Linked DNA regions of Homo sapiens. The protein of the gene in region 2 purifies or fractionates together with the protein of the main gene of each other region. This does not show direct contact. Each region holds a gene or a part of one and is shown on either strand. Other genes may lie near its edges. The genes, in order: PPP4R3A, ALKBH3 and ASCC3.

What was found.
Region 1: the proteins of ALKBH3 (region 2) and PPP4R3A purify together in Homo sapiens (affinity purification with mass spectrometry; 3 studies listed by BioGRID and IntAct, with this or other methods). This does not show direct contact.
Region 3: the proteins of ALKBH3 (region 2) and ASCC3 purify together in Homo sapiens (affinity purification with mass spectrometry; 4 studies listed by BioGRID and IntAct, with this or other methods). This does not show direct contact.

Annotation. Positions count from the first base shown.
Region 1 is NC_000014.9:91,479,311-91,486,310, forward strand, and holds part of PPP4R3A (serine/threonine-protein phosphatase 4 regulatory subunit 3A), read right to left. Parts: intron 6,421-7,000; coding exon 6,322-6,420; intron 2,884-6,321; coding exon 2,266-2,883; intron 1-2,265. UniProt on the Homo sapiens protein: Regulatory subunit of serine/threonine-protein phosphatase 4. May regulate the activity of PPP4C at centrosomal microtubule organizing centers.
Region 2 is NC_000011.10:43,874,507-43,885,027, forward strand, and holds the start of ALKBH3 (alpha-ketoglutarate-dependent dioxygenase alkB homolog 3), read left to right. Parts: upstream 1-6,324; 5' UTR 6,325-6,673; intron 6,674-8,076; 5' UTR 8,077-8,146; coding exon 8,147-8,225; intron 8,226-8,578; coding exon 8,579-8,682; intron 8,683-9,476; coding exon 9,477-9,511; intron 9,512-10,521. UniProt on the Homo sapiens protein: Dioxygenase that mediates demethylation of DNA and RNA containing 1-methyladenosine (m1A). Repairs alkylated DNA containing 1-methyladenosine (m1A) and 3-methylcytosine (m3C) by oxidative demethylation. Has a strong preference for single-stranded DNA.
Region 3 is NC_000006.12:100,876,676-100,887,292, forward strand, and holds the start of ASCC3 (activating signal cointegrator 1 complex subunit 3), read right to left. Parts: upstream 4,655-10,617; 5' UTR 4,386-4,654; intron 1-4,385. UniProt on the Homo sapiens protein: ATPase involved both in DNA repair and rescue of stalled ribosomes. 3'-5' DNA helicase involved in repair of alkylated DNA: promotes DNA unwinding to generate single-stranded substrate needed for ALKBH3, enabling ALKBH3 to process alkylated N3-methylcytosine (3mC) within double-stranded regions.

The DNA.
Region 1 (7,000 bases), on a different chromosome or scaffold from region 2:
TGTGTGTGTGTGTGTGTGTATGGGTGCAAATAACAATTCTTTCTTTGTACTACACAAACTTATTTTTTTGTTGTTGAGATAGGGTCTCACTCTGTTGCTCAGGCTTGAGTGCGGTGGCATGATCATTGCTCACTGCAGACTCAAACTCCTGGGCTCAAGCGATTCTCCCAACTCAGCCTCCCACATGGCTGGGATTATAGGCATGCATCACCATACCTGGCTAATTTAAAAAAAAAAAAAAATCTTTTTTGAGACAGAATTTCACTCCTGTTGCCCAGGCTAGAGTGCAATGGTGTGATCTCAGCTCACTGCAACCTCCGCCTCCCAGATTCAAATGATTCTCTCGTCTCAGCCTCCCGAGTCTGGGATTACAGGCGTCCACCATCACGTTTAGCTAATTGTTGTATTTTTAGTAGAGACGGGGTTTCGCCATGTTGGCCAGGCTGGTCTTGAACTCTTGACCTCAGGTGATCCACCCGCCTTGGCCTCCCAAAGTGCTGGGATTGTAGGCGTGAGCTACCGCATCCAGCCCCAGGCTAGTCTTTAACTTCTGGGTTCAATCGATCCTCCTGCCTTGGCTTCCCAAAGTGGTGGGATTACAGGTATAAGCCACTAGGCCCAGCCTATGTAAACTTCTATTTCAGTTAGAATAGACCAATTCACACACTGGGATGACACAGTAAGAGCTTTTCTAATTTTGGGGGTGTTACAAACGCAAATTATTGTCTAGCTCTCAGAGACTTTGACTCAGGTTTTGTGCAGAATTCATGATACTGCACCCTAGGGGACTGTGATGCAAATACCCTAAAACACCAGATCAGAGAGATTGGGCATACTATAAGAAAAAAAAATCTACATTTTAATAAGCAATTATCAATAGACACTTAAAAAATTCCCATGAATCTTACATCATATTAAACACTTTCTTTACATGCCTGACCTCAGTTAATTTTCAGACAACTTTACAGGGTAGGCATTAATGTCACCATCCTTCAGATGGGGAAACCGAAGCTTTAAGAAGTTAAGGCTGCCCAACTCACATAGCTACTGTTATTAAGTGACAGACGGAGCTGAAACTCAAATTCACATGGGTTTAACTCACCCACAGGCACACCCCTTAGCAAAACGTGGCTTTTGGTAGGGATACATGCAGTTATAATTTGCCTCCTCTGCTACATTCCCTAGACCCTGAAACTGGACTTTTACCGTATCATTATCTGGGAATTTTACAAATTCGTTTTAAATTTTATTTTTTTGGTAGAGACAGGCCATAGCGCCTGGCCCACAATTCTCATTAGAATTTATATTCTGTGTTTGGTGACATTTCTCTTGGCTTTGTGCTTCACTCTTTCCTCTTCCAATCTGTTCTATTCTATGCAAAATTCATAGAGTAATAACCCCAAAGTTCAGCATTCAACCATTTCATTAATATTATCCTCCTATAGTTGAGTATGGTGGCTCACAACTGTAATCCCAACACTTTGCAAGGCTAAGGTGGGAGAATTGCTTGAAGCCAGGAGTTTGAGACCAGCCTGGGCAACAAAGTGAGATCCATTCTTTACAAAAAAATTTTTAAAAGGTGGCTATGGTAGCATGCATCTGTAGTCTTAGCTAATTGGAAGGCTGAGGTGGGAGGACGGCTCAAGCCCAGGAGTTCAAGGTTGCAATAAGCTATGGCTGTGCCACTGCACTCCAGCCTGGGCAACAGAGCAAGACCTCAACTTAAAAAAAAAAAAATCAGGCTGGGCCCAGTGGCTCACACCTGTAATCCCAGCACTTTGGGAGGCCAGGGCAGGCAGATTGCTTGAGCTCAGAGGTTTGAGGCCAGCCTGGGCAGTATGACAAACTCCATCTCTACAAAAAATACAAAAATTGGCTGGGGGTGGTGGTGCACACCTGTGGTCCCAGCTACTCAGGAGGCTGCAGTGGGAGGATTGTTTCAGCCAGGGAAGCGAAGGTGGAGGTTGCAGTCGCTGAGACTGCATTATTGCCCTACAGCCTGGGTGACAGAGCAAGACCCTGTATCCAAAAAATCATCCCCTCATACCATTTCTTCAAACTACATTTGTCACACTTACCTCTCCTACCCCAGATAGAGTAACCTTCTGGTCTCGTATTATTATTGTATATTATAATCTCTTAAAATAACTCACAATACTTAACTTTATACATTAACAAAATTAAAACTCAATGTATGTATTTAAAAGGAGCAAATTGTTTTCGCTGCATCTCTTGAAATATGAAAAAAGGAATGATCTAACTCACCTGCAACATGCCAACAATCTCTACCTTATTGAAAAAGATAAAAGAGTGAAGTGTTGATAACATGTTTTCTTCAAAGACCGAAGGAGTTGGTAGAACCATATCTTGTATATACTGAACTCTGTATGTCTGATGAATTTTTTGTTTCAGCTCAGGATCTGATATGGGAATCACTTCTTTAAACTTGGCTGTTTTTGTTAGAAATTCCCTGTGTTTTCGTGGTTGTGATAAAGCAGGATCATATTCTAAACATCCAATGACGTCCATTATACATTCTTCAGAGAACATAACTTCAAAAAGAGCAGTTCGATTCAAGAGAAAGATGCCTTTGATAATTTCATACAAGTGGTGCAGTCCTTCAATATTTTCCAAATCTTCACACACATGAAAAAGCTCCAGGAGCTTTTTAATATAACCCTCATTTTCTAGTGCCAGTGCAAGTTTTTCACGACGAAGAGGTGAAGGTAAAGATGATGCCACAAGTTCTGCAATTTCTTCAAGGCGACTTAATTCACAAGATGGCAATTCTAAGCCTGGCGATGACATATCATCAAAACGCTCCTCTTCAGATTCATCCACAAGGTCCTGAGTGATGTCCACGGAAGGGTCCTTTCCTTGAACCTATGAAAAAAAATTTAATTGCTGACAAAATAGATAACAGGTGACCAGCAAACCTAAATGCTACTCTAAGATGAATACTAGAAATGTTGTAAGAAACCTATAATGGTCATTTTCAAGACAAAACTGCCTACTTTTCTACATTACATTTCTCCAAATATGTATACTTTCAATTTTAAGGAAGTTAGTCAAAGTTCAAAAACAGAATGAGCTTCCCTATAAAGTATGAGGTCTGCTGGCAAGAACAACTTTCTAGGACAGGCTAAACTAAGTGAGACTGTTACGAAACAGCCCTCTGCAGACCCACAACATAGAAGCCTGATGCTAAAACAGCCACTAACATCTCATATCCCTGGCCCTCTTTTCCAGCAGACCAAGGCAAGTCTCAGAAACAGTCCTAGGACTGTGCTAAAGGACACTGCCACCACCAAACTCTTCAATATTTAACTCTGAGGTGAAGACCAAATAAACACCAAATATCATAATGTTATGATCACAGAAAATATATATAATTATAAGCAAAAAGGAAAATATTTAACATCAATTGATTGTAGAAACCAAGGGCCAAAGAGCATGAACAAACTGGCTTTGGACCAAAGTGAGTCACTGATCTTCTATAAATACTGACAGCCCAAACACAGGATTTAAAAAACACTAGGCAGAATACAAGTGTACCTACATAAAAATGAAGCCACATATAAAGTAAATACAACCTATATGTAGTAGAGTTATTCCCAAAAAAGGTCTGCTGAAGGTTAAGTAACCAAACCACGAAAATATTTTCCTTTCTACACACCCTAACCTGTAGCCTTCATGATCCCTCTAGGAGCCTGAAAATCTGTCATAAAACCTAATTTTATGCCACTGGAGGGGCTCTTATTATAAAAAGGTAACTTATATTGACTACATTTTAAAGTAAGGCATTTTTTTTGGTAACAAAAGGTCAAGGATAAACTTTGAAATGAAACAAATTTTGTTATCTTGGCCCTAGAATTTGGGACAGTGAACACTAAAGCAAGTAGAAGGCCAAGTAGAATGGTAAAGCAATGAAAAAAATTAGACCTTATATGGAAAAGCCAAGAAACTTAAATTGCTTAGCGTAATGAACAGATGCACTGATAGATACTAGAAAAGATGACGACCTGGAATACTTTTCTTGAAATGTGCTGCAAGGTGATATGGTCTTGACCTCAACCAAGTGGACAGCAGCACTGAAAGGAGGCAAGTCACATTCATGGCTTGTACCTGCATGGTCTCACACTGGCTCTGAATTTGTTAATTATGTAAGCTCTCATTATAGTTTTAAGTTCCTGATACCCAAACTATGACTTTATCCACAGAAAAATGTTAGATTTTGATTAGCAAACCAAATGAAAAGAGAGGAGTGCCCTTATTATATTAAGAATGCCATCTTTTTGAGTTGAGCAAATTGGTGAACATGGTTCAAGAAATAGAAAAACATTTAATATCTCAGAGAGCAAAATGTAATGACTTTCTTGGATCTAGAAAATGATTGAGAAGTTCAGACAGAACCCATAAAAAGAGTGACTGAGAAATGACACCTTGAACATAAACTATATAAAAGTTGAAAGGGAGTATCAGAAAAGAATATTAAAGCAGCTAGTGATAAAATTATTAAGATGATGAAAAACTTTATGATATTAAAGACCAAACAAAGGTAAAGATCAGACAATATTAAAGGAGAGCCAGGCATGACAATGACAAAGTGAGTTCAGGTTTGAGTTACACATTGGCATAAAGGAAGACTGTATCCAGAGTGGAAGTGTTTGATTCAGAAAGATGAGAGAGGAGAACAAGATTTGTCTGAATAACAGATGCTATTAACATAGCCTGAACTCATTAATGTCACCTCTCTCTCTTTGGGATAACACTACAAGACAAAATCTAGAGACATATGCTATAAATATAATTGTTGGATGGAAAGCAAAGAAAAACTAAAAAGATGGATGGTATTCAGATATAAATGTTAGTCCTTTCATGTTTCAGAGAAGGAAAGGGACAGCTTAACAGACAGGTTAATTTATGAAAAGCACAGCGAAGTAGAATATATTCTTGAAATAAATTCCATTAAGTCAAGGAAAAACTGTGCTAAGGACACTATATCTTCTATGAATGCTATAGCTGTCAAACTTTAGGGTGCATCAGAATCACCAAAAGCAGGGGGCGACAAACCATAGCCAAATTTGGTCTGCCACCTGTTTTTGTAAATAAAAGTTTTACTAGAAGACAGCCCCTCCATTCATTTATGTGCTGTCTATGACTACTTCCGAACTAGAACAGCAGAGGTGACCTAGCTGTGACAGAGACTATATGGCCTGCAAAGCCTTAAATATTTACTATCTTGTTTTTTACAGAGAAAAGTCTGGCCTATAGGGCTTGTGAAAACAGAATTCCTAAGAAAGGATTTTAAAAAACAATTATTGGACCCTACTTGCAGTTTTTGATCCAGTAGGTCTGGGGTCGGCGGGAGGGGTGCTAGTCTCAGAATTTGCATTTCTATCAGTTCCCAGGTCATGCTTGTGCTGCTGGTTTGAGGGCCACATTCAAAGGAATTAAGGAATCTGGTGAAGATTATTCTCTAGATAAAGTAAACATGGAGATGGAGAAACCTTCTCTAGAAAGAAATGGCCTAAGAAGTGTATAACAAGAGCCAACAGCATTAGCTACTAGAGCACATACAAATGCAAATTCACAAAAGATTGTGATTATGTCACTAGGGAAACTCCAGAATAAATTAAGAACATTCGAGCCTAGAGGCACGGTAAGGCTGAATAGTCAGTCAACAGCCATACTGCTCAAGACAAGTACAAGGGTGGGTTTTCTTTCAAAAGCCACAAGAAGTTATGAACAAAGAGTGATGTAATCAGACTTGCATTTTTAAAAAGATCACCTAATTGCTCTAGCTAAAATGTTGATTTAGGAAGATCAGTCAAGACAAAACCAATAAACCAGGCAAGAAATGATGGTGGCTTGGAAAACTACAAAAGTAAAAATGAAGATAAGCCAATGGATCTAGATTTATTATCGAGGGACTGAATGGATAAAAGCGATGATGGAAGGATAAACAAGATCCACAAGTTTCTGATTTCAGCAACTGCATGGCACTTAGAAGGAGATGGGATAGATATATGTGAGAAGATTATGTTTGGTTTTGGAGTACTAAATTTGAGATGCTAGTGAACATGAAAAGAGAAAGTTTCAAAAAGGCAGGTGGATATAAAACACTGGAGTTCAGCAAAGGTATGAGCTAGAGAGTTTAGTGTCAATAAATTACACCTTCCTTTAAATCAAGTTCAAAGACAGCAGTGAATTTAAAAGATCAATTTGAAATTTATTTAAACTCTTGGGCATTAGTTGAAAGCATGGCAAAAAACTAAACACTTAAAGAAAGCATGTTGATTTTTTTATTTAAAAAATTACCTGACATATTTTCTCCCAAATTTCATCACATCCAGCTTTTTCTTGAAAGCTAAGGGCCAAGTCATAATTTTCTGCTTCAGACCACACAATCAGAGTGTCCTTTGGAGACATAAAAGGAGTCTGAATGATTAACATACACTATCACAAACGAAAATGAACAAACAAAAGGAAATAAAACTGTGCTCATTTTTACTTTTTGCAACACTAATACTGGCAATTATCAATGTCTTTCTTTTTCAAAACAATGACTTTTTACACTTCACTTCCCCCAATCTATAAAACAAAAATAATGTTTCCTTAAGGACAACTTAAACCAATATATGAAATATATTCTTTTCATGCATTGCAAAAGATAAAAACAAAACATTATACCAATTATACCAACGCTATCCGAGCATACTGACTTACATTTTATGCTGTCATTAAAATGTCCAAAGAGGAAATCTAAGCATAAAATAGCTAGGGCATGTTAGGACGATAGGGTTAATAAAACTCCTTCTCTCTTCCCTCTATTGTCAGCAGGTGTTTTTCACCAGGGGCCTCTGAGGTCCATGAAGCCCTTGAAATTATTGGCTACATTTGTAGTACGTGAGCATTTACCTATACATAGGTTTTTTTGTTTTTTTTTTTAAACTTAGCAAAGTGCTATGGTTCAAGAAGCAGCAAACTCCTAGCACCT
Region 2 (10,521 bases):
AATGTAACCTCCAACTACATAAATATAAAATAATGGAGAGAGAAGAACATGATTTTCATGTACAAAACACATACATATAGCTAGCAAAGAGAAAACATACAAAGCTCATACAGTCTTTGTTTCTGTTATTGGTTATAACATCACAGGTGGCTTCTTCCATATTTCCCTTGCCCTTAGCCAGAACCTCAGTTCACTGACTTCTTTACCTGACGGTACAACACAAATCTTCATTCTTAATCCAAGTTATTCATCATTCTGCTGTTTTGTTGTTGCTGCTTTTGTAGTTTTCTTTATGTTTTTTTTTTACTGGACACAAAGTACCAAGAGGCACCTGAGAAAATCCTTTTGGTTCCAGACATAGTCCTTGTGTAAGCATTCACACCCTGAGGAAGCAGACCTTCAAACCAGCACTGCTCAGTGTTGCTGGGACAGGAAGCAAGTGGGTTAATAATTATATTACTGAAGGGGGTCACTCTCATTTTCACCCTCATTCCCAGCGTCATGTATTCTGGTTAAGGGAGAAAGAGCACCATATTCTGATCTCTGATTCAAAGTATAAACTGCATCCAATAATACAGAACTCTACCCTTTCAGGGGCTGTCTCCTGATTGGGGCCATAACTAAGTCTTCAGTAAGCCACTCCATCTTTCAATTAGCCAAACTGTTTCCAATGGGTAAGAAGTTAAGCCCATTGATGTACTTCCTTTACTGTGAAATGAGTTCCTTGATCAGGGAATACCATGAAGGGGAATAAGACATTTGGTGGGTTCACAGATGGTGGTGCTGGCCAAAGCAGTACATACAAGGAAGATAAATAAACCCATATCCAGAATATGAATATATTCCAGTGAAGATGAATCTCCACCCTCTCTATGATGGAAAAGGTCCAATGTAATCAAACTGCTACAAGTGGCTGGACGGTCGCCTGACAAATGGTGACATATGGAGGGCTCAGTATTGGTCTTGGCTATTTGTAGGTTAGGTATGCAGCAGTAGCATTAGCCAGGTCAGCTTTGAGAAAAGGAAGTCCAAATTGTTGAGCCCATGCATATCCTCCATCCCTGCCACCATGACTACTCTGTTCATGGGCCTATTGGCCCATGCATGACATTACAGGTATGAGCCACCACACCTAGCTCACACATGTCTTACTAAAGCATCTAAAACACTTTCTACCTTCTGTTCACCATATCCAATCAGCACAATGTCGTCATTATTGTTGTCTAGAGTGATGTTTTGTAGGATGTCAGGATGAGAGGTGGACCTATAGTATGACAGCAGAAGAACTGAGGTATCTCTGAGGCAAGACTATGAGAGTATACTGTTGGCCATGCCAAGTAAATGCAGAATGTTCCTTTTTTTTTTTTTGAGACAGGGTCTCACTCTGTCGCCCAGGCTGGAATGCAGTGGCATGATCTCGGCTCACTGCAACCTCTGCCTCCCTAGTTCAAGCAATTCTCCTGCCTCAGCCTCCCGAGTAGCTGGGACTACAGGTGTGCACCACCACACCTGGCTAATTTTTTGTATTTTTTTTTTTTTGAGATGGAATCTCGCTCTGTCACCCAGGCTGGAGTGCAGTGGCACAATCTTGGCTCACTGCAAGCTCTGCCTCCCGGGTTCACGCCATTCTCCTGCCTCAGCCTCCCAAGTAGCTGGGACTACAGGCATCCACCACCACGCCTGGCTAATTTTTTGTATTTTTAGTAGAGATGGGGTTTCACCGTGTTAGCCAGGCTGGTCTTGAACTCCTGACCTCAGGCGATGTGCCTGCCTTGGCCTCCCAAAGTGCTGGGATTACAGGCCTGAGCCACCGCACCCAGCCAAGGCAGAAAGTTTCTTGTAAATTAATATAGAGAAAAAGGCATTAGCCAGGTCAAGAGCTGCCTACCAAAGGCAAAAGGTTATGTTAATTGCCGCAGTAAAGATAGCACATGTGGGACAGCAGCTGCATTGGAGTCATGGAGTAACTACCTGATTAAATTTACAACAGCCGACAATCACTCTTCAAGATCCGTTTGACTTCTGCACAGGCCAACAGTAAATTAAATGAGAATGAGAATGTGATAGAATTATCATCTGATTCTTTCAAGTCTTTGATTGTGGCATTAATCTTTACAATTCCTCCAGGAATGTGGTATTGCTAGTATTTACTATCTTGGTATGGAGGGGAAGTTCCTGGAGTTTCCAGGTAGCCTTTTCTACCAACTGGCCTTCACTTTGTGGGTCAGAGAGTCAATTTGGGGATTCTGCTAGTTGCCAAATATAACTAATCCAACTATAGATGGTCCCTGACTTATGATGGTTCCATTGATTTTTTGACTTGACGATAGTGGAAGAGTGGTACACATTTAGTAGAAACTGTACTTCAGTACAGTATTCAATAAATTACATGATATATCAACACTTTATTATAAAACAGGCTTTGCATTAGATTATTTTGCCCAGCTTAGGCTAATGTGAGTGTTCTGAGTATGTTTAGGGCAGGCTAAGCTAAACTGTGATGTTCCATAAGTTGGGTGTAGCAAATGCATTTTGACCTATGATATTTTCAACTTACAATGGGTTTATCAGGATAGAACCCCATCATAAGTCAAGGGAGCATCCATATACATTCAGGAACTGGGGAAGTAGCCACTGGATGGATCTGTGGATGACTGGGTCCATTGTGAGTCAAACTTGAACTAAGATTCCATCTATCACTTGAACATCATTAAGCCCTCACTTTCATTCGTGGGCCATAGAGGTGTTCTAGGTTCCCAGGAATTAGTTAAGAGCCATTGCCCAGTAAACCCTAAAATACCTGGGTACTTACTTTTCCCCAGTGTGTAACCATTTGAGTAAATGGCTGCATTCACTTGGATGAAGACTTGGGCCGGGCGCGGTGGCTCATGCCTGTAATCTCAGCACTTTGGGAGGCCGAGGTGGGTGGATCACAAGGTCAGATCGAGACCATCCTGGCTAACATGGTGAAATCCCATCTCTACTAAAAATACAAAAAATTAGCCGAGCGTGGTGGCAGGCAGCTACTCGGGAGGCTGAGGCAGGAGAATGGCATGAATCCAGGAGGCGGAGCTGGTAGTGAGCCGAGACCACGCCACTGCTCTCAGCTTGGGTGATAGAGCGAGACTCTGTCTCAAAAAAAAGACTTGGAGGAAAATTTACAGTATATACTTGTGACAATGGTGCAGGGTCCTTCCTCCAAGAGATGTGGCTTCCCTGTCAATCAAGAGGTTTGGGGTCGTGATATGACTTGTCTGGAAACTAGGTGAGAGATATGTCTATCCAGTGTGGCCAGGTAAGGTTTTTGGCTACTAGACATAGACTTTTTTTCTGTTAGATAGATCAAACAATTCTCTAGTAGGCTGCCCATCTGTTTCATTCCTAGGGACACCATGGCCACTACCAAAGATCCTTATAGACCAACATATTCTGATTACTGGTATGTCCTGGCTTCTGTATTGGATCAATGTCCTTACCTTTAATAATTAAGTGCTGCCACTTGGCCTCATCATCTCCAGTAAAACCAGGGGACCCAACTCAATGGTGGCATCTTCCATGATCACACCTGGCCTGCAAAGGAGAGCAACCACAGAGCTTTCCAAGGATGCAAGTGCTCCCTTGTCTAAAGTATTTCTCAATGCTTTAGAAAAAGGAGCATCTTCTGGATCTTGTTGTAGGATATAGTTTTTGTGTTTGTGTCTATTGCACGTGGGTCAGGGTCACATTTGATAAATTCAGTCCAACATTTCTACCCTTCTCAGTCTTTGGGTTCCCGCCTCTACATCGTGCCTTGGCATCTCAGTAGGATTAACCATAGACTACTGTTGAGTTAAATCTTCAATAAATCCACCAAATAAGCTGTTAGAGTCATTTCCAGTTGCATGAGTCAACACAATGTCTGTAAATGCACTCTAGTAAATGCCTCCATATAATTGGCCTGATATAGTACTATATACTGCCCTCCTTAGTTTAAAACAGTTAGAATCCACTTCCACACATTCCATACATTAGCAAAGTACGTGTAATTAGTATAGTTCTTTCAGCGTGCAAGCTGTTTTATCCTAGATCATAGTGTGTAGCAGCCTACCTGGAGCATTAATGAGGTTTGAACCTAGTTAGGGTCTAGTGGCAATGAGGCAGAAGAAGGGGAAGTAAATTCTGCTGGGTCTTGTAGAGAATGAGCTTCCCTTTTGAAGTCATCTGCCCCAGCTGAGGGCTTAGCAGTGTCTTCAAGCAAAGAATGACTAGTCTCCTCAGACTTAGGAGGACAAGCTACTTCCACTGCCAAGGAAGGCTCAGGGTGCCATGGGTGTTCAAGACTGTCAGTTATCTGGGTCTAAGCAGAGTGCTTATTTCAAATTTTGGGATTCCATTCCTTCCCAATTGATGCCTTAACTTTCAGAAGAGAAACTAACCTGGTAATTCAGCCCACAGGGAGTAGTCAAACACTGTGGGCCACTGTGCACTAAAGAGCCAGCTGAGAGGAGCACACTGGAACCAGAAAAAAGAGCCCCTTCCTCCTCTAAAGTTCCTCCAGTACCCTCCACTGATGAAGCTCACTGTCCATTGAACCAAAAGGCAAGGGAGAAACCTTCCAATATTGCAAACAGGGTAGTGAAGGGTGGGTTTGGAATGGAGACTCAATAGGTTGATAATTGGCAACACACTTCGCCTTCATTCCTTCTCCCATGGTCTCTACCACCACCTCCTGATAAAAACTCAAACACTTCAAATAGAAATAAGAAAGTCAAGACCCTAATGAGGATGCCAAGACCATTAAGAACATCTAATACTATATACTCGCATCGTCTAGGGTAACCAACCATCTCAGTTTGCCCAGGACTGTCCTGGCTTTAGCACTTAAAGTCCTGTGTCTTGGGAAACTCCTCAGGCCCATACAAACCAGAACAATTTGTCATCCTACATATGTCCTAGAGGTTTTCAAAATTTTTGTGCACCAGAATCACTTGGGTGCTTGTTAAAAACGCAGGTGATTCTGTTAAACAAAAAAAAAGCAGTAATTTCAGATGCAAGTAAATCATGGATTGATCTTTGAGAAATACACTACGTAGAGGCTGAAGAGGTGTCAATCACTACTTTTAGGAACTCCTCAATCCAGACTTCTTTGTTCCTGTTCCAAAACTATAATCATTGAAAAGAAAGAAATAACATATTTTAGAAGATACAGCCAAAGTTCCTGAGCCAGAAGCAGACATTGACAAATTAGTTGATGGGGGAAAAAAACTGTAGTGTGGCCTTAGCATTTTCTCTCCTTTCAGGTCTAGGATAAATCATTTTTTTCCTTCAGTGTCACAAAGTATAACAAATAATAATGAGTGCTGTGAAAATGGATTTGATAGTAGCAACAATATAGGTACACATTGATGAGGTGTACCTATAATGAGCTTCCTGAAGGTAAACACTCATATCAGGCTTATTTTAAAGATTTCCACAGTGACTATACTTTGGCGGATCTTAGAGAATGACTTGCATAAAACAGTCAATTCAGTGCTACTTTTGCTATTTTCATACTGTAAAGTACATGGTTTAACATGACCATTTTAAAGATGTTTCTCATGAGCTCAAATGGGGTGAGCTCTTTTTCATTTTTTGAGTTTTTGTTGTGTTCCAGGCATTGTGCTATATTCTTTAAATGCATTATCTCACTTAATCCTCCCAAAAAGAGCGATACCCATTTTAAAAAGAGGCAGAGTACTTGCCCTAGATTATACAACTAGTAAGTGGTGGTGTCTGGGCCAAAATGTAGGTCTGTTCACTCAAGCAAATTTGCTTAGCACTGGAGAGAGCCAAGGTGAATTAAGGCGTGGTCCTACGCCCTGCTGTAAATGCTGTGTTCGGAGGTGTGCACAGGCTGCAATAGGAACACAAAGGAGGCTCATTTCAGGCTCTCCGTGGTTTTTAGGATAAAATGCAAATCCTTTTGCCTAACACATTATAACCAGGTCCCCCAAACTCCTCTCCCTTTATCTAGTCCCACAGGGACCCGGTCACTCTTTCTGCCACAAAGATGCCGATGCTTGGACATCTCCAGTTTCGAGGAACTCACGTAGGAGACACGCCTTCACTTCCACCTTTGCCAAACCCCGACCCCTTCACACCGCTCCCCTGCACTCTCAATCCCTGTCCGCTGCAACACATATCCCCTCATCAGCACCTTCGGTGATTAGGCCCTCCAGGCGCGGGGGATGTGGGACTACCCGGACTGAGGACTGCGCACCGGAAGTAGTGGCGGCGCTGCGTAACGTCGAGAGGAAGTGCCTGATGCCGCGGCCTGTGATTGGGAGTTGCTGGAGTCGGTGCTTCACTCTTAAGGTTCCGATCACAGACTGCGGAGTGGGTCAGGGGCTGCGAGGGCTGCCCCAAGTCCTACCGGGTTTGCACGGGCGCGCCCGGCTCCGCCCGCAAGTGCGCCTTCCTGACTTACTGCTGGGTGCGCGGGGCTGGGGGTGCGAGTACCACCCCTGAAGTCTCTTCCTGGGCGACCTCCGGGGCCTCATTCTAGGCCTCCTTAAAGAGAAGGATCTAAATTAGGAAAAGGAAGTGCCCTTATCCACGACCAAGCTCTTCCACCTGCGGAGCTCGCTTAGTCTGCACCTCAACCGTGCGGAAAGTGACTGCCCTGTTTACTGAGGAAAAACTGGGGCTCAGAAAGGTGAAGTCATTTGCCATGGGCCATGCAGCTGGGAAGTGACAGATCTGGATTCAAAGCGAGTTCTGGCTGGCGCCAGAGTCCTTGTATTTTACAGCACTGGTTCTCAAGCTTTATGTGCATTAAGAATTCCTGGGTTGAGGGTGGCGTTAGTTAACAAATTCTGGGACTCTACAAATTGAGTAGATCTGGGATGGGGCTCTGGAATCTATTTTCAACAATTGTTCCCTGGCAAATAACATATGGCTCCCCAGTGAATGGAGCAAGAAGGTGAGCAAGTCGTATCCTCTGCGGGGACTGTAGGTAATTGTGTTACGCTTTTAGGGCCTCAATTGAGAGAACATGTCAAACGGGAGCTCCTGGGATTGGAGAATTGGTATTTGATTGTCATTAACTCTTCTGGGCAGATGGCAGCCTCTGCGTCTCTCCACCTATTAAATGAAATGAATTACATGCTTATCATCTGGGGGAACTTGTTAAACACACAGATTCCTGGGCCTGGCTCAGCTCTACTGAATCAGAAGAGGTGGGAGATGGGACCTGGGAATCTATAGTCTAAGCAAGCTATTAATATAAAACGAGCTTTTACCTTTGAGAACTTGAGGTGTGAAGCTTTCTTAGGTAGAAGCATAAAGAAATAGATTACAGATGTGGAACATGTGGCTTGAATTTCCTTGTTGTTTTGGTAGCTGTACGTGCTTCTGCATTTGCTGTAGGCTAAGCTTTTACTGGTACAACTGTCAAATTAGTATTATTAGCCATTATGAGGTGGATTTATCCGTTAGCTGGAGACAGGAGTTTAATATAAGTTGAATGTTAATCTGTCTGTTGTTGATTTCCTGAGTGGCTTTGGGTGCATCATTGAACTTTACCGTCCACATACATACCTGCATTGTGTCAAATCTTACACTGCTTGTTATAAAGACAAATACCTGTATCCATCCTAAATCAGATTTTCTGAAGGTGGGCCATAGGTATTTTGAACAAACTTCCAGGGAAGTTTGATGCAGCCAGTGATAATGGAATATATGCTTGGAAACAGTCTTAGCCGATTTCTCAATGTCCATGTAGGTGAAAATGGGAATAGTACAGTTTCCTTATATTCTACTCTTGGGGACTATTAAGAGGAATGTGGTTTATAATAGGTCCTAATTTTAGAATTTCTTAAAATGCACTTTCTTGTGAAAGAAACAAAAGTACTATGGTAAGATTACAAAAGGTGAATGCTAAAGCCAGCAGCCCCAAATGACTAGGCTTCTTGAATGAAATGTTGTGATGACATAAACTGATTTTACATGGAAGCTCTATTGCCATTGAGAGTCTTCTGCCTGAAATTAATTATGCCTTAGGAGTAATTGTTCACAATCCTAACTAAAAGCACTGTTTTGTTTTGTTTTAATAAACAGATACCATGGAGTAGTTTGAAACAGGAACAAAATCTTCTGAAAGCTCGGAGCAGAAGCCTTTTTGGTCAACATGGAGGAAAAAAGACGGCGAGCCCGAGTTCAGGGAGCCTGGGCTGCCCCTGTTAAAAGCCAGGCCATTGCTCAGCCAGGCAAGAATCTGTAGGGATTTTGTGTGTGTGTGGATATGGACAACTCTCATTCTCTTTTATTTATATCCTTTTGGTTTATAATGGACTTCCATTTCAATTGACGTCAAGGAATTGTTTAAAATGTGGCTGATATTTTGTCCGATTTTGTTGATGGTGAGCTAAGGGTGGGTCTTTAATGTTCCTCATATTTAGTCCACACCCTCAAACCTTTCAGTATCTTCTGTTGACTTTACCAGTTAGTTTCTACATGTCATAGAGATCATCTCCAAGTGGGCTTTATTGGCCCTTGCTCAGTAGAAGGTGCTGAGAACAGACTTTCCCCTGGTTTGAGGCTGTCCCCTCTCTTGCTTCAGCTACCACTGCTAAGAGCCATCTCCACCAGAAGCCTGGCCAGACCTGGAAGAACAAAGAGCATCATCTCTCTGACAGAGAGTTTGTGTTCAAAGAACCTCAGCAGGTAAATTCATGGTTTTTTCTTCAATAGTGATAAAAATTTGCTTAGAAAAGTGATATTCACACAGTAGACACTCAAATAAATAATGACTGAATAAATTCACTAATAGCAGAGCAGAAGAACTATAATAATAATGAAATGAGAAATATTTCAGTTCCTTTCTATGTCTGGGGATTCTTCGTAGTCTGCTCCCAGTTTATGGTCACATGTTATTCCCGTATTTTTGGCAAGGAGGTTACACCATAATGAGAGCTTGCTTGCATTGGTTATTTGAGCTCCAGCAGTCCTAAAACTGTGCTGTCTTCAGTGCTATTGCACTTCACCATCTTTGGAATTGGATTAAAATTTCAGTTTTTACAATAAAATGCCTGATTTTTAGCCCTTTTTTCCCATGAGGAAAAATGTAGGAAACAGTGAAGATTTACTTTTTAATAATGTGGAAAAGTTAAAAAGTTGGGTTTCTTGCCATAGTAACAACCCTATAAATAATTATTAAAACTCCTTATTTTATAGCATATTTTCTATTTTAAAAAATCTTGTCAAGATTTTTCCAGAGCTGCTGGCTGCTAGGAAAATTTATTCTATTAATAATTGTATCTTCTTTTACTGTCTACTAGCAAATGTGAAGTAGTTTTAAGAAGAGTGGAGACAAGGGTCTCTAGTGGGTTAGTGAGAAGTTGGAATAGAAAAGAGATAGTTTTTAACTTTATTTTGACCAGAAATGGGAAGATATGGTAAGTCAGTATCCTTGAGGATTAAGAACATCCCAGAAGTAAGATCCGCCTATTTCCTTGCAGGTAGTACGTAGAGCTCCTGAGCCACGAGTGATTGAGTAAGTAATTTGCTGTCTTCCTGTAATTGTTGCCCACAGTGAAATGAAGAGCCTGGAATCTTTCCTCACTGTTTTTTCTATCTGGAAGAGAATGGCCCAATAAGTGTCTTAACTGTAGTCTGGGATATTCCCATCTCAAATGTCTTTAAACTTGATCTTTTGAGAAGACTTTCTGAATTTGCTGATAGTATTGAAAATGCAACAAGATATCCATATGTTAAACTTTGACTTGTGTAGATTTCCTGGCCCTATTTCACCGATATCTGTAGACAGTAAGCTAAACCTCTCAGGCAAAGACAGAGAGGGATTTTTCCTGAGTCATTGAAGCATGGTTCTTTGAGAAGCCATTAATTGCCTCTTTTTTTTTTTTTTTTTTTTACTAGCAATGCTATGAAAGCTGCTAGTGCTGTAGATGAGCTTACAGTCCATTTATTAAAACCATGTAATTATTCCAGAACAATTTAAATGATAGTAAACATTCTTCTTATATTGATCTGTGTCTAAAATGTTCTTGTCCAAAGTTGGTGAGAGATGCTTTGACTCCTCTTTTTATGCTTGTCAGTTTTCATCTGATGTAGATAAATTGTCAGTAGAAACTATTCTTTTATCTTAGCAAATTAGCATCAGATATATGTTCTTGCCCATGATCAATCTGTTTGTTATGCTGTTTGACTGCTTGCAGATTGGCTTGTATATCTTAGAAAAAGTCGCAGGCTAATAGTCTTTGGTTGTTTATTATTTTTTATTTTTTTGGAACAGGCTGTCACTCTGTCACTCAGGCTGGAGTGCAGTGGCATAATCAAAACTCACTGTAGCCTCCATCTTCTGGGCTCAAGTGATCCTCCCACCTCAGCCTCCCGAGTAGCTGGGACCACAGGCACACACCACCATGCCTTGCTCCTTTTTTAAAAAATTTTTTGTAGAGATGGGATCTCCCTATGTTGCCTGGGCTGGTTTCGAATTCCTGGGCTGAAATGATCCTCCCACCTCAGCCTCCCAAAGTGCTGATA
Region 3 (10,617 bases), on a different chromosome or scaffold from region 2:
TACTCCACATTTAATATGGTCCACTAAATGACAAATATATAAATGAAAAATTCTGTTAATAATAAATATTTAATGCCCCAGAACAAATATAATTTCTAAAGGATTGAAACCCTAAAAGCCTACTTCTGTTCGTCAGAAGTACTGGCTGTGGCTATCTGAACAAATCTTTAAATTGTTAATTAAACATACGTACAGGTAAAAAGAAAGTCTTAAAAATGTAACTGTCCTTTTTTACATTCCAAATAAGGAGAAAACTAAACTGATGGTAGCATATTTCCTTTTGCAAGATGATATTAACCAATAATCAGTGAGCTAGAATTCCAGTACACACTATTCTGAAGTACTACATTTAAAATTGTAATGTTTATTCTTCTTAAACCAAACCTGTGTTTCTAAACTCTAAAGATGGTCTGACTGCTTGATAGCAACTTTAGGAAAAGATAGTTACTGTATTTTTTCGTTATAAAAATATGAAAAGATCTCCAAAACAGCCAAACTATATTTCCTAATAAGTTTAAAGTCAGCACTTAGTTACTGGCAATTATGGATACTAGGGAATTATTAAAGGGACAAAAATAGTCAAAGTGATATACTGCAGATTAAGGGATAAAAACACTGACATGAAGGAGTAGGTTGTAAATGGAGTAAAATTAGAATTTAAGATTTCAGTACTTAAAATAGAATCTTGTACCCACAAACCACACCTTGAAAAATGAACAGTGAATAAATATTAAACAGTGAATAAGAATATTTATATTTTATTGTGCCTTTTTTAAAAATTGAGTTGTGATATTGTTAACATTAGCAAGATCAGAACTCAGAAAATAACCATCGTCGACACATATTTATAATCCTCCATTATGCGATTTCAAAAGGGGGTGATTTTTTCATGATAAATCCTAAAGATAATTTAATTTCTTACTTGTATTAAACCTTATTACCATCAATTGGTTCATACAGCAGAGTCTAGGCACATTTAACTTTCTTGAATCTACCAAACACTGTAGGCCAAAAAAAGGAAGGCAGAGACAGACAAAAACAATAATTACTAGAGATTCTGCTTACCATTTCAGGTATTGAATATCTGCTCCAGAGTGAATGGGGGATGGGCAACAAGAATCTTGCTCTTTTAGTCTGTTTCAATCACCACATGCATCTCAAAATGTGAGCATCTTGCTGCATTGCATGATTCTAGTTTTTAACACTTTTTCTCTTTTTTTAAAAAACATACAAGGTGGTGACCAAACACAGAGCAACTTTTTCACTGGGAGTTCATCTAAAGAAACTGTGATACATTCCAAGTCAGGATGAAAAACATGGCTGTGTAGGACATGCTGAGAGACAGCATGTTATGCCAACTTGATGTCCTTTTAAGGGATTCTCAAAGGTAATCTTAGCTATTCACAGTTTCCACCTAACAAGTTCACTTTAGATGCTAACTCATTCTTAAGCAAGAAGCAATTGCTCCTGAATAGTTCTCAATCAAGTTAGGAAACACATCTGAAGCATGCAGAACAGAGAAAGCATGACAAAAATAATAAAACACATAAACACTTTTCACACAATACAAAATATATAATGGTTAAAAACAACCAAATTTCTATGGGGCTCTTATTCTCTAACTTATCCTCTAACTAGGTTTCCCATTCAAAGGTGGGGGAAAAAAATCCTGGACAGGCTCATAACTATAAAGCAGATTAGTCTTTATATTCAGAATATTCCCCCCCAAAGTTGTGTTAATTTTACTTTTAGCACAGGGTAAGGAAGGCTTTTCCTTTAAATGTCCTTGGGAAAACAAATAAAAAAAAATATTTTAACACCAGATAAGGACAAGCATAGTCAGAAAGAAAATTCCAGAATATCCCACAAAGATGAAACGAGCACAAGAAAACGTGGAACAGACCCAGCACATATTAGGCAGTATGTATTATAACTCTTCCCACGAAAGTCCAGTGGAAAAGGGCCTAGCACAGATTATGTCTGAAAGACAAAATTCTCATTCCACCCTAATCCATGAGCCTCTGGGAGGCAGACTGAAGGAATTTACGCCTGCCCTCTTGTGAGAGTGGAAAAAACTCAAACCGTTTTTCCTCTGCTCTCACACGACAACCATCAACACAGAAGATGTCTGTGACAAAATGTGTATGAGTTTCTCCCCATGCACCAAGCAAACAATCACTTCTGCAGCAGACATCAGATGAGTGTTCTCCAATTCATTTCTGACACTATCTAGAGATACTGTCATATCCCACAGATTGAAGGCCCAATCCCACAAGACTGCCCACCACTTCTGATGCCAATTACAAGCTCCAGGCTTTTTTATCTGTACTTCTGACTGACCAGCTATAAATTGGGGATTACATGACCCCCCTCCTTGGGTTCGGTTAATTTGCTAGAGTGGTTCACAGAACTCAGGGAAACACGTTTACCAATTTATTATAAAGGATATTACAAAGGATACAGATGAACAGATACATAGGATAGGGTAATTTATAAGGGAAGGGAATTTCCATGCAGAACTTCCAAGTACTTCCTGGGCACACCACCTCAAGGAATCTCCACATGTTCAGCTTTCAGAAGCTTTATGAACCCTGTCATTTTGAGTTTTTATGGAGGCTTCACTACATAGGCATAATTGATTAAACCCTTTGGCCACTGGTGATCAACTTAATCTTCAGCCCCTCTCTCACCTCCCTAAGCAGTTAGGGGGTGGGGATGAAAGTCCCAACCTTCTAATAATTCCTTGACCTTTCTGGTAACCAGCCCCCATCCTGAAGCTACTAGGAGCAGCCAGCTAGCTAAGACAAAATTCTTAGTCAATTCATTAGCATACAAAAAGGCAAAATGGGGCCCGTAATCCCAGCACTTTGGGAGGCCGATGCAGGAGGACTGCTTGAGCCTAGGGGTTCCAGAGATACACAGGAGATCAATCAGACCAAAGTGAAGACTGGAAAGAAACTGATTTCTACCTCAAAAGAAAAAGCTTTTTATTTATTTATTTTTTTTGAGGTAGAAACTGAGGTAGAACTGTGAACTTTATATTTAAACAAGCTTTGAAAAAGAAAAACTTACTCTTCTGAAATGGCAAACCACTGGTACATATACTACTTTTTGATCAAAGGCAATATCAAATCATGCTGTTAAAGCAAGATCATCTGTTCCCCTTTCAATGCCAATTACATATATACATTGACAATAACTTTTTCTTTTAAAAGCTTTGTTTTGGTTAACTACAGATCCATGGCATGAGAAAGAACCCTAGTCAAGATTCTGTCTTAAAAGGAGGCTGCTGGATTATAGAAAGTTCATGAGCACAGAGACTGTCTCTCTCTTGCTCTCCTAGGCCTAGCCCAGCGTTTGACACATAGGAAGACTTGAATGAATGAATGACAAAAAACTGTTAAGCAGGGATCAAGAAAGCTGAACCATGAAAAATTAATTTCTCATATAAATAGGATTATTTAGCCTAAGCTTAAGAGCATCTTTAAGGATCATTTTTCTCATGCAAGACTATTATAACCATCATTAAAAAAAAGAGACAACATAAACTGGAGCACAATCCATAGTAAAACCAAAAGCTTAATTCTCAACATTTGAGAACTTTGAGAATCAGAAAAAGGATTTCAATCTATGAAACATAAAATCTGGTGATGGAGAAAATGGCTGTCAATCTCACCTAACCTAGGGAAAGAAAGAAAATGTAACCATGAGTTTGAATGCACAAGTGACAACACATCAAACTTTTACCAGCCCCTAGAATTATGCTTCTTTTAAACCAAAGAATAGCAAATACCATTAGCACACTGCATTCCATGAGTAAGTTAATTTATAAGAAACCTATTTGAAATGACTGCCCAGTACTCACAAAACCTCCCTAGCACCCACATACACATTTATTTATTTCAAAATGACATTATAGGCTCCTTGATTGCGAAATTCACCCACAATCCATCACGGTCAGCTACCTATTTACTTTCCAGTGTGTTGGGGGAAAAATATGAGGAAGATTTCTTTCCCCAAATCTACGTGAAGAAAACGAAGTTATCAAGGCTTTGTAACAGAAAAAAAGAAAACAAATTACCCATGCATGGGACAGAAAAACCTCATCTGGTCACGTTGTGGCTTAACACTTGGACAATATGTAGCTTAGGTTAAGTTTTCTATCCCCAACCCCACCTACAAACTCTAGGAATGGGCGGTATTGTTGCGAGACCCCGGACTCGACCTCATGCCACTGAAAAGGATGACAGGTCGGGACTTGCCCCGGAGGCAGGAAGAGAATCTCTGGCGGGTCGCGTAGCCCGCCTCGCCGTCCCCGCCTCCAGCCAGCTCCCCTGGCCGCGGCGACCCTTCTCGTCCTCCCACCTCCACCTCCACCTCCTCACCTCTCGGCCTGGCTCACGCGTTTCCCATCACTCTGTCAGCTCCTGCCACCGCGCCTTCTTCCCTTTCGGTTTTACTTTAACTTCCCACGCCGGGTGAGGAGCTGAGCGCAGGGCCAAAGATGCGAGCGGGCAGCTGTATCGCCGCGCCCCGTCCGCCCTCCAAGCCGCGCTTGCCGGGGTCGCGCCCAGTCACAGGGAACCGCGTGTGAGGACCATCAGTCAGACAGACAGACGCAAAGACGCACAGACCCGGCGAGGAGGGACAGAGTGGAGCTGGCGCCGGCCTACACGTCACCGCCCCGCTGCAGCGCCAACGTCGGCACGTCGACTCGTCGACTCCGGGCCCTCTGCCCCGCCCGCGTGCGCGCGCCGCTCCGCCTCCCGCCTCCAGCCTCTAGTCCGCTGGGTTCGGAGGAGCAGAGGCGGAAGGTCCCGGCGGCGGCGAGGATGCGCCCCAGGGCGGGAGCGGGACGCTCCACTTTACCCTGGCTGCCCGCAACGGGCCAGGCCTGCCGTCTCTACCTCTCTACCTGTGAGTTTTTTCCCTGCATTTACTTCAGTCTGCCGCGTCTTCTCCCCGCCCTTCTCTGTAAGGTAAATATGTGGAGGAAATAATTCCTATTAAAGGTAAAGGAAAGGAGAGCAATTTGAATGAAGAAACAGGTAGTTGCTATCGTCGTTTTCAGCCAAAGCCCTCTGGCTGCTAGAGAGTATACATGGTTCTCTGGTGTCAAGGCCTGTTTTCCATAAGCTTTCTGGATTCTCAGCTTAGTTCCCTCAAAGTGATCTCTGCAAGTCGGCTCTTCGGTCAGAAGACCTCCTCCAAAAACAGAAAGCCCAAAGATTCCCTAACTCGATTGAAAAGATAGGAAGATACGAAGAAAAACTAACCTAAAGAATTGTGTGGTTTATCTGCAAAGAGTTCTAGACTAAAAGCCAACAATGCAAAGATAGTATGAGTTAATATGTTTGTTGTGGCTCTCTTCTGCCATTCCCGCTTCCTCAAGGTAATGTGCCCCGATGCCTGGTAGAACTGTTTTGTAGAGGCAGCCAATAGTGATCCAGTTATTGTCTTTACTGGTCAGACCACCTCTGAAGTGCTGTGTTCAGCATTTGAAGACTTTAATCAAGCTGGCATTATATCAGGGAAGAGCAAAATGATGACGAGAACTCAAAAACAGGGCAAGTGAAGAAGGATTGATTAAACCTTCCAGGACTCACCTAGAAGAGAGAAAACTACTGGACTCTCTCCAAATATGAAATGACCTATCATGTGAAGTTGATTTGTTTCATGTGATGCAAACTTCAGGGAACAGATTTAAGATCCTGAAAAGAAGATGCCCTTGTAGCACGACCCAAAGAATTGCCTACCTTAGCATGTGTGAATACCTCAACCACAGAATTTTGCTTCAAGGAGATTCTGAAGCTCACTTAATAGGGACTTGGTACAGGGGAGCCACACATCAACAGAATAATTAGTTGATGGTTTTGTTAAAGATATTTCCAGTCTTGAGATTACATGTGTCTTTGGTCCTGGACTTCATAGAGTTTACAAGTTAGTTCATGAGACAAGACAAATGCATCACAAAAATAAATAATGCAAGGAGGCCAAGTGATAATGAGAGGTGCTGATAAGTGCTAGGAATTCACATGACAGATTATTCCCATCACAGTTCCAGAGGCTTAAGGGAGAAGAGAGGAACTGAAAATAGACTACCTAGAACTGCCCTATCCATTGGGGTAGCCACCAGTTAAATACGTCTCTTGACATTTGAAATGTGGCTTGTCCAAACTGAGACATGCAATGAGTCCAAAATGTACACCAGATTTCAAAGACTTAGAAAACAAATGTAAAATATTGTAATTCTTATGTCGATTACATGTTGAAATAATATATAATGGATCAAATAAAATATGTTAAAATTAATTTCAACTTTATTTTTACTTTTTATGTGACTTCTAGAAAATTTTTAATTACATAGGTGGCTTGCATCATATTTGTATTACATAGTCCTGGCCTGGAAGGAAATTCAGTTAGCCCTCTGTATCCATGGCTTCTGTATATGTGTCAACCAACTTTGGAACAAAAACAATTGAAAAAAAAAAAAAAAAAGAATGGTAATGTCTGCATTGAACACGCACAGACTCTTTTTTTCTTGTCATTATTTCCTTAACAATATGGATGTAACAACTGTTTACATAGCATTTCCCATTGTATTAGGTATTATAAGTAACCTAGAGATGGTTTAAGGTATATGGGACAATGTGCATAGTTTGTATGCAAATACTATACCATTGTGTGTAAGGACTTGAGCATCCTGGGGTTTTGGTATGTGGGAGTGTCCTGGAACCAATCCCCTGTGGACACTGAGGGATGGTCTTACTTCATTGAACTCTAAGAGCTATCTTTGTCCTCTTTATAGTCCCCAGGGTTTCCCCATTTTTTTTTTCAAGAGATGGGGTCTTGCTGTATTGCGCAAGCAGAAGTGCACTGGGTATTCACAAGCATGATCATTGTGCACAACAGCCGTGAACTCCTGGGCTCAATGATTCTTCTGCTTCATCCTCTCAAGTAGCTAGGACTACAGGTACCTGCCATCAAGCCCAGCTTCCCCAAATGTTAGTGGAAAGACAACCTAATGAAAATGGCCCTGATGACAAAGAGAAAGACCGTCCAGAAAGTATGCCATGAGCAAAGACAAGAAACAAGACTATAACTGCATTCTAGATAATGAAAACCTATTTATCTGTAATGGAACATTGTTAATAGAAGGTAGTGACAAAGTTAAAATGTAAACAAACTAGTCTATAAGGAGACTCAATTTTAAATTTAAAGAATTGAGTATAATAGGCAGTCAGTGTTTGGCAGTCACAAAATGGGATTGGGAGATTACTTTGGCAATATTGGGTAGGGTGGGTTGAAATTAGTGCATGGCTGGGAAACCAATTAAAACTCATTGCAGTGGGCTAGGCGCAGTGGCTCACCCCTGTAATCCCAGTACTTTGGGAAGCTGAGGCAGGAGGATCACTTAAAGCCAGAAGTTCAAAAGCAGCCTGGGCAACATAGGAAGACCCCCATCTCTACAAAAAATAGAAAAAAAATAGTCAGACTTGATGGTACATACCTGTAGTCCTAGTTACCAAGGAGACTGAATTTGGAGGCTCTCTTGAGGCCAGGAGTTTGAGGCTACAGTGAGCTATGATCATGCCATTCAGCTCCAGTCTGGGCAACAGAGCAAGACCCCATCTCTAATTGAAAAACAAAACAAAACTCCACATTGCATTTAAAAATATATCATATGGCTGGGTGTGGTGGCTCACAGCTGTAATCCCAGTACTTTGGGAGGCTGAAGCAGGTGAATTGCTTGAGCCCAGGAGTTTGAGACCAGCCTGTGCAACATGACAAAACCCTTTCTCTAAAAAAAAAAAAAAAAAAAAAAAAAATGAAAATTAGCTGGGTGTGGTGGCATGCACCTATAGTCCCAGCTGCTCAGGAGGCTAAGGCAGGAGGATCACTTAAGCTGGGAGGTCAAGGCTACAGTGAGCCATTATCGCACCCTTGCACTCTAGCCTGGGTAACAGTGAAACACTGTCTTAAAAAAAAAAAGTATCATACCAAAAAAAGGCTCAATATTGGATTTATTTAAATAAATTGTAATACATCTCTAAATATAGAGGCATTAAAAAAGTATAATGTGAATCTGTATTGCTTGATATGGTAATATGTCCAAAATGTACAGTTGTATGAAAGAGCTTGCAACACAATCTATACATAATATGAACACATTTAGGTAAAATTATATATGTTTGTGTGTGTCTTCTGTATGTGTGTAACATGATTATTTTGCAAAGAGTGCCTTAAATTATCTCAAAATTGTCTCAAGAACAGAAAATTTCAAGGTGGAAGTGTTTCCAACCTATTTCTTACAGCTCAACAAAATCATTCATGCTTTTGACTTTTTTCATTTCTATGTTTCATTATCCTTAGTATGTTAGCCTTTCATTATCAGATTTGCCACTTCATGGTTTGTAAGGATGGGTTGCCAAGTTTCAGAACCATTTCCAGCCCATCAGTCTCTGGATACCTCCTTCAGTATGTGTGTGCACTAGGTCTGCCTAGCTCACCAGTGTGCCATAGCCTCAGCTTCTAGGCCTTTCTTATTTTATCTATTGTCAGTCACTTCTTCCCTGCCCTTTTTCACCCCTGCCTTATCCTGCAACACCGAGTCTTAAAATTCCATCTTTACTGCACTCCAGTGCAGTTCCTGCTCTGAAGTTGATGCTTAACCTTTGAGGAATGCTGATTAATAAAAGACTCAATTCTAAAATGTTTTTCTACTCTTTTAAATAAATGATATTAGAAAAGAAAAAAGTTAGATTACTACCATGGCAGACAGTGTTGTTTGCCTCCTCAACCACCATTTCTTTCCTCTTTCTTAACTAGTAAGATGATTTTTTAAAAGTACCAAACAACTCAAAAAATGTGAGCTTCTCCCAAAGTAATTTCATTTCCCTTTGAATAAGAATGTTGTATAGGTGGGCATATGGGCCAAGGGACAATCAGCTTCGGAGAATCCTGCAATATGTTTTACCCAGGTTTCAAAATATGTGCTTACAATATATAAAGGGTTTTTCTTGAATTACTGTTCAATATGGTGAACTCGGCATATCATTTGCCTACTATCCTTTCCTACACACCATAGAAATAAAAATGAAGAAACAGAAAAAATGAAGAATAAGTGAAGGAGTAAAGATGATGTGTGCCTGTATGCATGCACTTACATGAGTAGAAAAAAGTAGATGATGTCAAGAGAAGCAAATGAAATTTCAAAAATGTGTTGGGATACAAAGCAAATAGTAGTGATTTGACCAAAACCATAGCCTAAAAAATATAGTGGAGAAGCTACACAGGATAGGGCAGAAGTGAGAATAAGGGCTGAAAATGGGGATAAAATATGGCACAATTGAATCTATCACCATACACATTTCGCTTTCTCAGACATATAGACTGAGAGCAAGCAAAAGATATTAATATCTGCCACCAGACAAAAAGACCAAAACTGACCCCCCAAATCTTCTCCAAATTAATTGAATAACTAGTACAGAAAAGTGAAGACTTTTAGGTTGATGACACAAAGGAAAAACATTCTTATTCAAGCATTCAGGGCCAGCATCCTGAGAATAAGCTAATTGCCTACTCATGTAAAGTGAAACTTCATATTTGGCATTCCTGGCCCTGTCCTACCTAACCCAGCCACGTATTCACAATTCCTACATAGGAGAGAGAGAGAACTGGCAGACTTCTTACCTACAAAAAGAAAACTGCATCAACTACCAATTTTATATACATATATATATATATATATATATATATATATATGAACAAACATGAAGAATTAACAGGCAAATAAGGAAAATCAGCATCATGAGAGAAAAATACAAAGAAAAACATAGAAAAACTAACTCTAAAGAAGGCAAGGAAGCATAAATAAAAGATTTTAAAGAAGCACCCGAATTAATATGGAATTCAGAACATATTATGTCTACAAGATATGAATAAGATACTTTGAAAAAGGAGCAATGATAGAACAAAAAGAGCTACCAGACATTAAAAATTTGTTAACTTAAAAACTCAAGAGAAGTACTGGAGATAAAATCGAAGAAATCTTATAAGAATATAGTATACATAGCAGAGAGAAAATAAGAAAGAAAACATAAGAATGTCGTGGAGAGCCAATCCAATAGGCTCAACCAGTAGATGAGAAAGATTTTTAAAAAAAAGGGGAGGGAGAGTGAGAAAATTATAAGTTTTTTTTTTTTAGAGCAGAGAAGAAAATAACTATTCAGATTTGAGTAGACTCAGGGTATTGAAAAATAGATTAAAAAACTCATGCCTGGAGATATTATCATGTAATGCCACAAATAAAAATTATGAAGAAGAAGAAATCCCCAAAGTTCCTAAACATAAAAGACTTATAATCAACAAAGGAATAGGGACTGATGCTATCAGCATCACTGCATACCTGAAGACATGACAGAATATTTTCAAAATTGTAGTTGTAGATGTTTTTCAGTCTACAAGTCTATACTCATTCAAATTATCAATTAACTATGAGAGTAAAATAAAGATATTTTCAGACTAACAAGGATGTAGAATATTTTTCTCCTGGGTGATCTTTTGGAATGTCACTAGGCCATACAATCCAACAAAATAAGGACAAAAAGTTATGCT